2 separate regions of the Homo sapiens genome follow, and region 1 is linked to region 2. The links come from fine-mapping of genetic effects on gene expression. Tissue or cell type: whole blood. Region 2 holds a variant in brackets; the other region holds the start of a gene. All regions are shown on one strand. Distances are from middle to middle. Region 1 holds the start of CYP2C8 (cytochrome P450 family 2 subfamily C member 8). Region 2 overlaps ACSM6 (acyl-CoA synthetase medium chain family member 6).

Region 1 (4,343 bases), 150 kb before region 2:
AAATCACACAGTTCATCCTCACTTCAACACATTCAGCACATTCATTTGACCTGTTTTAAAAATGAAGAAACTGAGGCCAGAGAATTGCAGATTCATTCTCAGAGTCCCACAGGTAATATGTAGAAGCTCCAAACTGGAATCTCTGCTAATTTAAACTGATGCTTGAGCAATTAATCAATCCCCCATGTCCACCTTGAGGCCACTACCCAGCTAAAGACTTCAGGGTCACTTGTAAAGCTCTTAACATGAGGATTCTGATACAGCAGTCCTGTGATGAACCCTAGAAATCTGTATTTACAGTGTCACCCCAGGTGATTCTAATGCCCAGTCCAGTTTGTAACTGCTGGTATTACCAATATGGAACGATGAAGCACCACAAAGTTAGAATCAGGACATTCAGCATCTCCTGGAAGAACAATTTCTTCCATTCTCCAGCAACCTTGGCCACAGACAGTGGCTTTCTTCAGAATCCAAAAGAATTCTGTTAACTACCTATTGGGCCCTGACTGATTACTTCTTTCTTTCATGCACTTATGTTTGCCCTGAACCCACAGATATTTATTTCACATCAGCCATCAAATGAATCTTCAGAGAAGTTCAATTTTCATGACCATTCTGAATAAAACACATGACTACTATAGTAGAGAACTTATTGGATGAAATTTCTAATCACACACACTTCCCTTCACCTTCAGTCAAAAATCATAGCAAAACACTGTGAAACAAAGAGGAGAAACAGCACTTTAAACTTTTGCCACTGTATTAAATGATTATATAATACAATGACCCCAATGTTTCTGTATTCACAAAATGCATCAACTCACTCCGCTATTTCTGACAATGACAGACTTAGAAAGACAAAAGAGGCCAGGTACGGTGGCTCACACATGTAATCCCAGCACTTTGGGAGGCCAAGGCAGGCAGATCATGAGGTCAGGAGACTGAGACCATTCTGGCTAACACGGTGAAACCCTGTCTCTACTAAAACATACAAAAAATTAGCCGGGCATGGTGGAGGGCACCTGTAGTCCCAGTTACTCGGGGGAGGCTGAGGCAGGAGAATGGTGTGAACCTGGGAGGCAGAGCTTGCAGTGAGTGGAGATAGTGCCACTGCACTCCAGCCTGGGCAATAGAGCGAGACTCCGTCTCAAAAAAAAAAAAAATAGGAAGACAAAAGAAACATCAAAGAAGTTCAGAGGGAGTATTTTGCTTTACAATGATCTATTATAATAGTGTGCTTCCAGGAATATATTTTGTCTAAAAATAGCAGTCAAATAACTTACCCTTTGCAATTGGCTGGAGGAACATAAGGCAGACTTACATTGGTGAAAGATTTGCAGATGTCCTTAACATCTATCTGTAGCATATTTCCAATAATAGGAAGAGGAGTGGGGCCAGGAGGGAGCTTCCTTCTCCTACAGCTCTGTCTCCAGAGTGAAAAGAGAAGCATAAAAGAGAGACACAGCACCAGGACCACAAAAGGTTCCATTGAAGCCTTCTCTTCTTATTAAGACAGCTGTGAGCTTGCACTCCAAAGTTTTTATAACACTCCCTGCTAATTTAGTGTGTGTCTCTTTGACATGTAAAGTAAACAATCACCTAGATCCAATTTATACTTTTTTTCTGAGTGGACTTTGGCCCATGGATAGAAATAAAATGTTCTTTTGTCCTACTCCTTCTTTCCAGTGCCAATCTAGGAGATTCTGGTTTAATTGTATTGGATTGGAGCCCAGGTATTTTTAATTAAAAGTCCCTGGTTGTTCCAATGTGCTGTGATGATGGAGAAACACTGAAGTAAATGATTCTATGTTAGAATATACTCAAAATTCAATATTCTCAGATTAATGACCAGTTGGGAATTTATGACCTTGAGGGAAATCAGTGTATTCTATATTTTGTGTATAAAAAATGTACATTGTAATGCTATATCAAAAAATAGGAGACTTAGCCCTTGATAACAAAAGCCTTTCAAATATTTAGTATAGTTCACTTAAAATACAGCTGCCTAAACATGAAATAGTGAATATAACTCATACATGTTGAATTACCATACATATATCAAATTATTAGCTAATAAATGTATATTTATATATATTTAAATGTATATAAACAATATACATAAATATATATGTTATTACATAATAATATTTGTGTTATTATTACATTATTATAATAATAGGTGATTATTTACTTTACATGTCAAAGAGACAAACTGAATTAGCAGGGAGTGTTACATACATTATTACATAATAATAACATAAATACATATTTATACTATTAAATATTATATTAAATATATAAAAGTATATATATAAATGTATATTCATCATTAAAAGAGACTGGAGTATAAAGATTATCATTTTTTATTTTTCAAATTGGGAAAGAAACTCTGGGAGAACAGGACACCTGTCAGTGCCACACAGCTCATTGCCGGTAAAACCGGGATTTGAGCAGAGATCTTCTGATACCCATTGGGGTTCATTACCACTTACACCACAGCTGGCTCAAGAACAATTTTAGAAAAACAAAACAAACCCCAGACATTAGTTACTCTGAAGATACGCCACCTTGACTCTGTTCAGAAAGCAACAGGCTTCACATTAAATAGAAGTCCGTTATTTGTTTATAAGGATAAGAGGACCGGAGACGCTCAAAAGAAGAAATAAAAATTAGAGTTCTCCCCTCTGCATCACCTCACAAGTGAAAGTTGTTCAGCACTATTAAGGAAAGGGCCAATCTCACATAATTTATGGCACAGGGCTTGAAAATCTATGGCTTCTCCACCTTCCAGTCACCTCCAGACATGGCTGCTTCTATTGTTTTTGGTCTGTTATTGTTACAAATAATAGAATGTAATCATACACAGCAAGGAAGAGAAATTATACACAGAACAACAGTTGTGGATTCAACAGAAGATGGAACACAGGGAAATCACTGAATGGACCCAGGGCACAGAACCACTGCAATGTGCAGACCTGAAATGGGAACTGATAGTCAATGGTCATGAAGATCTAAATACAACTGGATTTATGAACATTACTAGATCACTAATAACAAAGTGTGTATACAAAGGCATGCTCTGAAAAGATTACCTTTATTCTAAATTGACCAGTACAGTTATTTCCAGCTCTTTCATTAAGAAAATATTAAGACCCAGTTATACAATGTTTTATCGATTATGTTTATAGACATTATGACAAATTTACAGAGAATTTTCACACTCATCACATCTCTTTTTATTCTCTCAATTATCTTTGCCCACTGTAAAATTATTCCCAGTTTAGAGAGGAGAAAGTTAGACCATGGAGATTCAGTACTTTAGCTAAGGACACACAGAATGCAAGTGACCAAGCTGGGGCTGGAAACCATAACCCCTGCATCTTGCTGCCTTCCTTTTAAGCAAAACATCCAGTTAAACCGGGCCACCAAGATTGACTAAAATTCAATACTTGTGGATTAATCTAATCAGTGACTTTCAAAATAAACATTAATTTAGTTAATAATTCTAGCACCAGTTGAGTAAAATGTGGGTCAGACGTGTTTGGTTTTATAACCTTTAAAAGGTGAGTGAGTCCAGGTCCTGGTGAACCCTTTATCCAGGGCAAAGGGAAGTAGTAATTTGCTGCCTCACTCACGTAGGTATAAGCTAGTTTATTTGGATAAAATAAGTTCACTTTCTCTCTTTAGAGCAATAATTTTATTCCTTGAGAAACAGTTGCCCTTGCTCTGCTCCTTGTTTCTTCTCCTGAGCTGAGGCTCCTGCCTTGACCTTTCTTTTTATAGAATAAAAGGAACATAGATAATTTAAAGACAGACGGGATCTCTGAGATCTACTAATTTAATTTTGCTTTGTTTTTCAGGAATGAGCAATTGGTGACTCAGTGAGTTAGAGCATTATCAATGCACCAGTAAAAGATTTTGTATTAGAATCCCAGTTTTCCTGCTTGGTGGTTCAGTGAAATACCCTATCCTATAGAATTCCCACCTAAGTCCAAATGATCAAGAGTGTATTAGCATTAATTAAGCCCTCTACAGTCACAGATTGACACCCACCTCAGCTTGGATAGGGTTGTGAATTAGAGCGGGGTTTTTTTTTAATTAATAGAATTTATTTTTATAGCAATTTTAGGCTCCGAGCAACAGTTCCCACAAACCCCTTCACCACACCTACAAATAGTCTTTCCCACAATCAACAACCCCCATCAGTGGGGTTCATTAGTTACAGTCAGTGAGCCAACAATAAGACATAATCATCAACCAAAGTTCGAAGTTCACATAGGGTTTACTGTTTGTGTTGTACATTCTATAAATTTGACTGATGTATAATGCCATATATCCACCAT
Region 2 (4,404 bases):
GAATTTGTGGTGGGGGGCAGGGGGATTTCTTACATTTGTTTTATATATTACTACTGTTTTTATTAATTATACTAAGAAGGGAATTCCATAATCTTGGTAACACCAAAGCCTTTTTATAGGACTTAGTTCTGTCATACGTCCAAAAAAAATTCTTTGGTGACTAAGAAAACCTCAGACTGTGTGGGAGAAGACAAAACAGCCAAATTGATAGCCTAGGCTCTGGGGAGAGGTCTATAGTTTGAGGACCCTGGTGGAGCTATGTAGTTCCATATGGCTCAGGAAACATCCTCACTTAGAAAGCTAAAGAAAATTCAGAACACAAGGTTCAAAACTTTGAGACCTCATAGTCAAGCTCACGCTTGGTACGCAAGTTACAATTCAAAACTGTAAAAGAGGGAACTTGAGAAATGATCAAATTCTGTCTCAGATTCTGTCTATACTACACTCACAGATCCATTTAATTACATCCAAAGAGTTGACATTTTCAGCACCCAGGACTCATTGCATTGTATTTCCCCACTGATCTCAGGTTGTGAATGATTCTGTCTAGCAAGAAAACAGCACATCTTAGGCAGTAATGATTTTGGCTTTATCTTTCTTTTTATGAAATACAAATATAACTGACACTCAGAACATCTGAAATAAGGCAAGGTTGATACACTAAGTTGATATGACTCCAGCAACACCTAATAAACTTGGCATTTTTAGTTAGTCACACAACCTGCATGGGAGAAAATGTACATCTTCCATTTAATTGTAATGTACTGGCAATAGCTAAGGAGTCTTGTGTTTTGTGAGCATTATTTGGGATGCAAGTGATGGAAACATATTTCAAACAAGCCTGAGCAAAAGTGGAAATTATAAGTCCATTTTGCTGGGAATAGCTTCAAGGCTTACGGAATCAAGACTGGAGAGGCCAAAACACCAGGACTAAAAAAACTCTTAAAACATCAGCTCTCTCTTTCTCTCCCTCTCAATTGCTCCATCTGCTTTTTTCTCTGAGTTGTTCTCTGATGAGTTTCTTCCACAAAGCAGACAAGATTAACACCAGCAACTCTGGAGTCACCACTCCTTCAGACAAGATCAAAATAGCCCTACTTCTACCTCTACTTTGGAAAATTCTTGGAACAGACTCTGATTGTCCATGCTTCTGTCATATGCTTTTCCCTTGGACTATAACTTAAGGGGCCTAACCTGAGACATTTGTTCATGCCAAAAAGTGGATCTACAGAACCATGATTAATAGTCCCACCAGATTAGATGAAGGGAAGGAGGAGTTCTTAAAGGAACCATAAAACTAGTTACTGCGGTACACTAGAGAGAGATTACTATGGCCATCCTCAAAAACATTCAGAATCTGGGGGCTCCCAATTTGTTAGCATGTAAACACAAGAAAATATTAAGTCTCTTTCCGTGTAAGACACAGCAATAGGTACTGGAAAAATAACTATGTAGAAGACAGAAATAATTCCTGTTCTAGGCTGGGAACAGTGGCTCATGCCTATAGTCCCAGCACTTTAGGGGTAAAATTCTAATAAATAAAATTTTCTCCATCCCATTACACCCATGGTTGACTCATCCAAGATCCAGTTCTCATGTCCTCCAAGGTAGACCTCTGTGCCCTCTTTGGGGTGCCCTGCATGTATGCTGAAGTATTTCTCAGCAGCCAACAATTACTTATTTTTGAGACATTTATTATTGAAAATCTCAAAAGACAAAAATAGACAAAACTGTATTTGAATTCCCATGCATCCACTGCCCATTTCATCAATTATTACCTAATCCTGTTTTATCATTACTCCTCTACAATCCCAAAAACAATATTTTCTCATAAATAGCTTTAGTATATTT[A/T]AAAAAAAGGCACTAAAAAACAAACATATTCTCCAATTATACCTGAAAGTTAACAGTAATTGCCTTTTATTAACAAATATCTACCACTGACATTTTCATCCATCATCTAAGTCATGCATGTTTTCTTGCTACCATTTGTTCCAATTAAGCACACACATTGTGGCTAGTTGGTAAGACTTTTGTGTATCTTTTAATCTATGAATTTCCTCATTACCTTCTTTTTTCCTTGAATTTGTTATTTTAAAAAACTGAGTTGTTGGTTCTTTTGAATATTTCACAGCCTGGATTTTGCTAATTGCAGTATGGTTTACATGTTCTTCTGTTCCCCTGCATTTCCTGTAAATTGACCTAGAGGTTAATTTAGTCACACTCCTGCTTGATTTTTTTTTAATCAAGATTACTTGTTAGACTGTGTAATGTTGTTCTGTTAGGAGGCACATAATGTCTGGTTATGATCAATAACTAGATCCATTAATTTATTGCTTTTTTAAAGAAAAACTTGTCTGCATTTCTTTGAACAGGGTCTACTCTGTGCCACTTCCAAAACAATAAAATTGAAGCCAAGCTCTCTGGGGAAGCCATTGCCACCTTATATTGTCCAGGTAGGAGATCATAGTAATGATTATGACAGATATTATTAAGTGAGCTCTTACAGTTGTTTATCTAAATTTCTGACATAAAGGTAGGCAATGAGGAAAGTCCACCATTCTCTAAATTCACCCCAAGGATAATCTCACATTATTGCTTTTATTTCCACCTCAATATCCTTTTGGAATACAAAGCCCAGACACAGGAATGAGGGAAGGAGATGCTGACAATTTTGCAGAATATCCCTTTAATGTAGTTCAAGTTTCAAATATGGAGAAATCGAATAAAAAAAATTGCTATTAAAAAGATATGTGCAAAATAAAGACAACTATTTTGAATGCACCATAATAAGCATTCTGTACTTGAACTAAAAATATACTAAAGTGGGAAGTCTAAGCCACTAGTCAGCTGCTCGGGTGTCGATTATTATAAATACTGTAATGTGATTCCCAAATGATGTAGCTGAATTCACAGTATGGGCATAGGAAGCAATACTAAGATGGTAGGGCAAATGCTGTGTCTAGGATTTTATTACATAAAAGCAGACTCAAATTAGCAGCACTTATGAAATTACCATTATTCATTTTAAGATAGTCCTTTGCTTTCACGCCTATCTCGCCTTTTTTTAACATTGGTCAAAAGGAAATAGTAAGTTCTCAACCTGAATGAAACAAATATTAGTATTTACTTTAACTATTGTATCATTCTGAAATTGACCCAATTTTGTTAAAGATAATGTTTACTGTAGAGTTCTATTTTTTGTTTTTTGTTTGCCTATCCAGTTTCACTACATATTATTTAACAGGATGTGGAAGTTAACCTAATACATTGAGGTTTATATGTTTGTTTTTTCCAGTAATCATGAATAGGTACTACATTATATTAAATGTGTTTTCTGATCCTATTAAAAAGGTAAAATAGTTTTTCTCTATTAATAGAGTTAATTAAAAATATTTTCAAATGTTAAATTTTCGTTGCATTTCTTTCTTTTTATTTTCTTGGATTTAATTTCTTAATTTTTATTTGTTTGGGCCTTTGCATTTAGAGACATGAATAAAATGAGCATGTAATTTTCCTCTCAAAAAATAAGAAAAAATTAAAATGTTCCTTGCATACTAAAGTATAAACAAAAATGAAATAAATGAAATTGAAAAATAAAATGTTCCTTAGGATTTTCTTAGAAAAAAAATCTTCCTACAAAATCAACAAACCTTAGAACTAAGAAAAACAAATGAGAAAAATACACAAAGAAATAAAATCAGAAGTGAAAGAGGAGAAACTCCAACTCATGCCATAGAAATGTGAAGAATCCCTATAGAATCCCTATGAATAATTATATGTCAACAAAGCCAGGTGTGGTGGTGCATGCCTGAAATCCCAGCACTTTCGGAGGCCGAGGCCAGTGGATCACTTGAGGTCAAGAGTTCAAGACCATCCTGGCCAACATGGTGAAACCCCGTCTTTACAAAAATACAAAAATTAGCCGGGTGTGATGGCAGATGCCTGTAATCTCAGCTACTCAGCAGGCTGAGGCAGGAGAATCCCTTGAACTCAGCAGGCGGGGGTTGCAGGGAGCCAAGATCATGCCACTGCACTCCAGCCTGGGTGACAAGAGCAAAACTCCATCTCAAAAAAAAAGAAAGGAAAAAAATTATATGTCAACAAAATAGACCACTTAGAAAAAATGGATAAAGTCCTAAAAACATACAACCTACCAAGACTGAATCATAAAGAATTAAAAAGTCAGAACATACCAATAACTAACAAAGAGATTAAATTAGTAATCAAAAACCTTCCAACAAAGAAAAGCCCAGCACCAAATGCCTTCACAGATGCATTCTACCAGAATGAGGGACAAAGATGACATGATAATCTCAAAAGACACAGCAAAAGCATTCCACAAGATTCAACACCTTTTGATGATAAAAATTCTCAAGAAATTGGGTAGAGAAGGAACTTACCTCA

The links. PIP is the estimated chance that this variant, and not a neighbour inherited with it, causes the effect.
Region 1: it holds the start of CYP2C8, and the variant in region 2 is the best candidate, but not a certain one, in a credible set for the expression of CYP2C8 in whole blood (TOPMed, PIP 0.77).

What each region holds. Positions count from the first base shown.
Region 1 is chr10:95,067,914-95,072,256 of GRCh38, forward strand. It overlaps CYP2C8 (cytochrome P450 family 2 subfamily C member 8), which reads right to left and starts at 1,584. Exons shown (of 9, transcript NM_000770.3): 1 at 1,322-1,584. The coding sequence starts at 1,489. RefSeq lists a promoter at 1,489-4,343 and a cis regulatory region at 3,399-3,419.
Region 2 is chr10:95,217,519-95,221,922 of GRCh38, forward strand. It overlaps ACSM6 (acyl-CoA synthetase medium chain family member 6), which reads left to right. Exons shown (of 11, transcript NM_207321.3): 9 at 2,373-2,453. All of the region lies in intron 3 of LOC107984257 (a long non-coding RNA gene), which reads right to left. Among named protein-coding and RNA genes, the nearest start is that of ACSM6, 25 kb to the left of the region's middle. The variant A/T (reference allele first, on the strand shown) is at 1,852.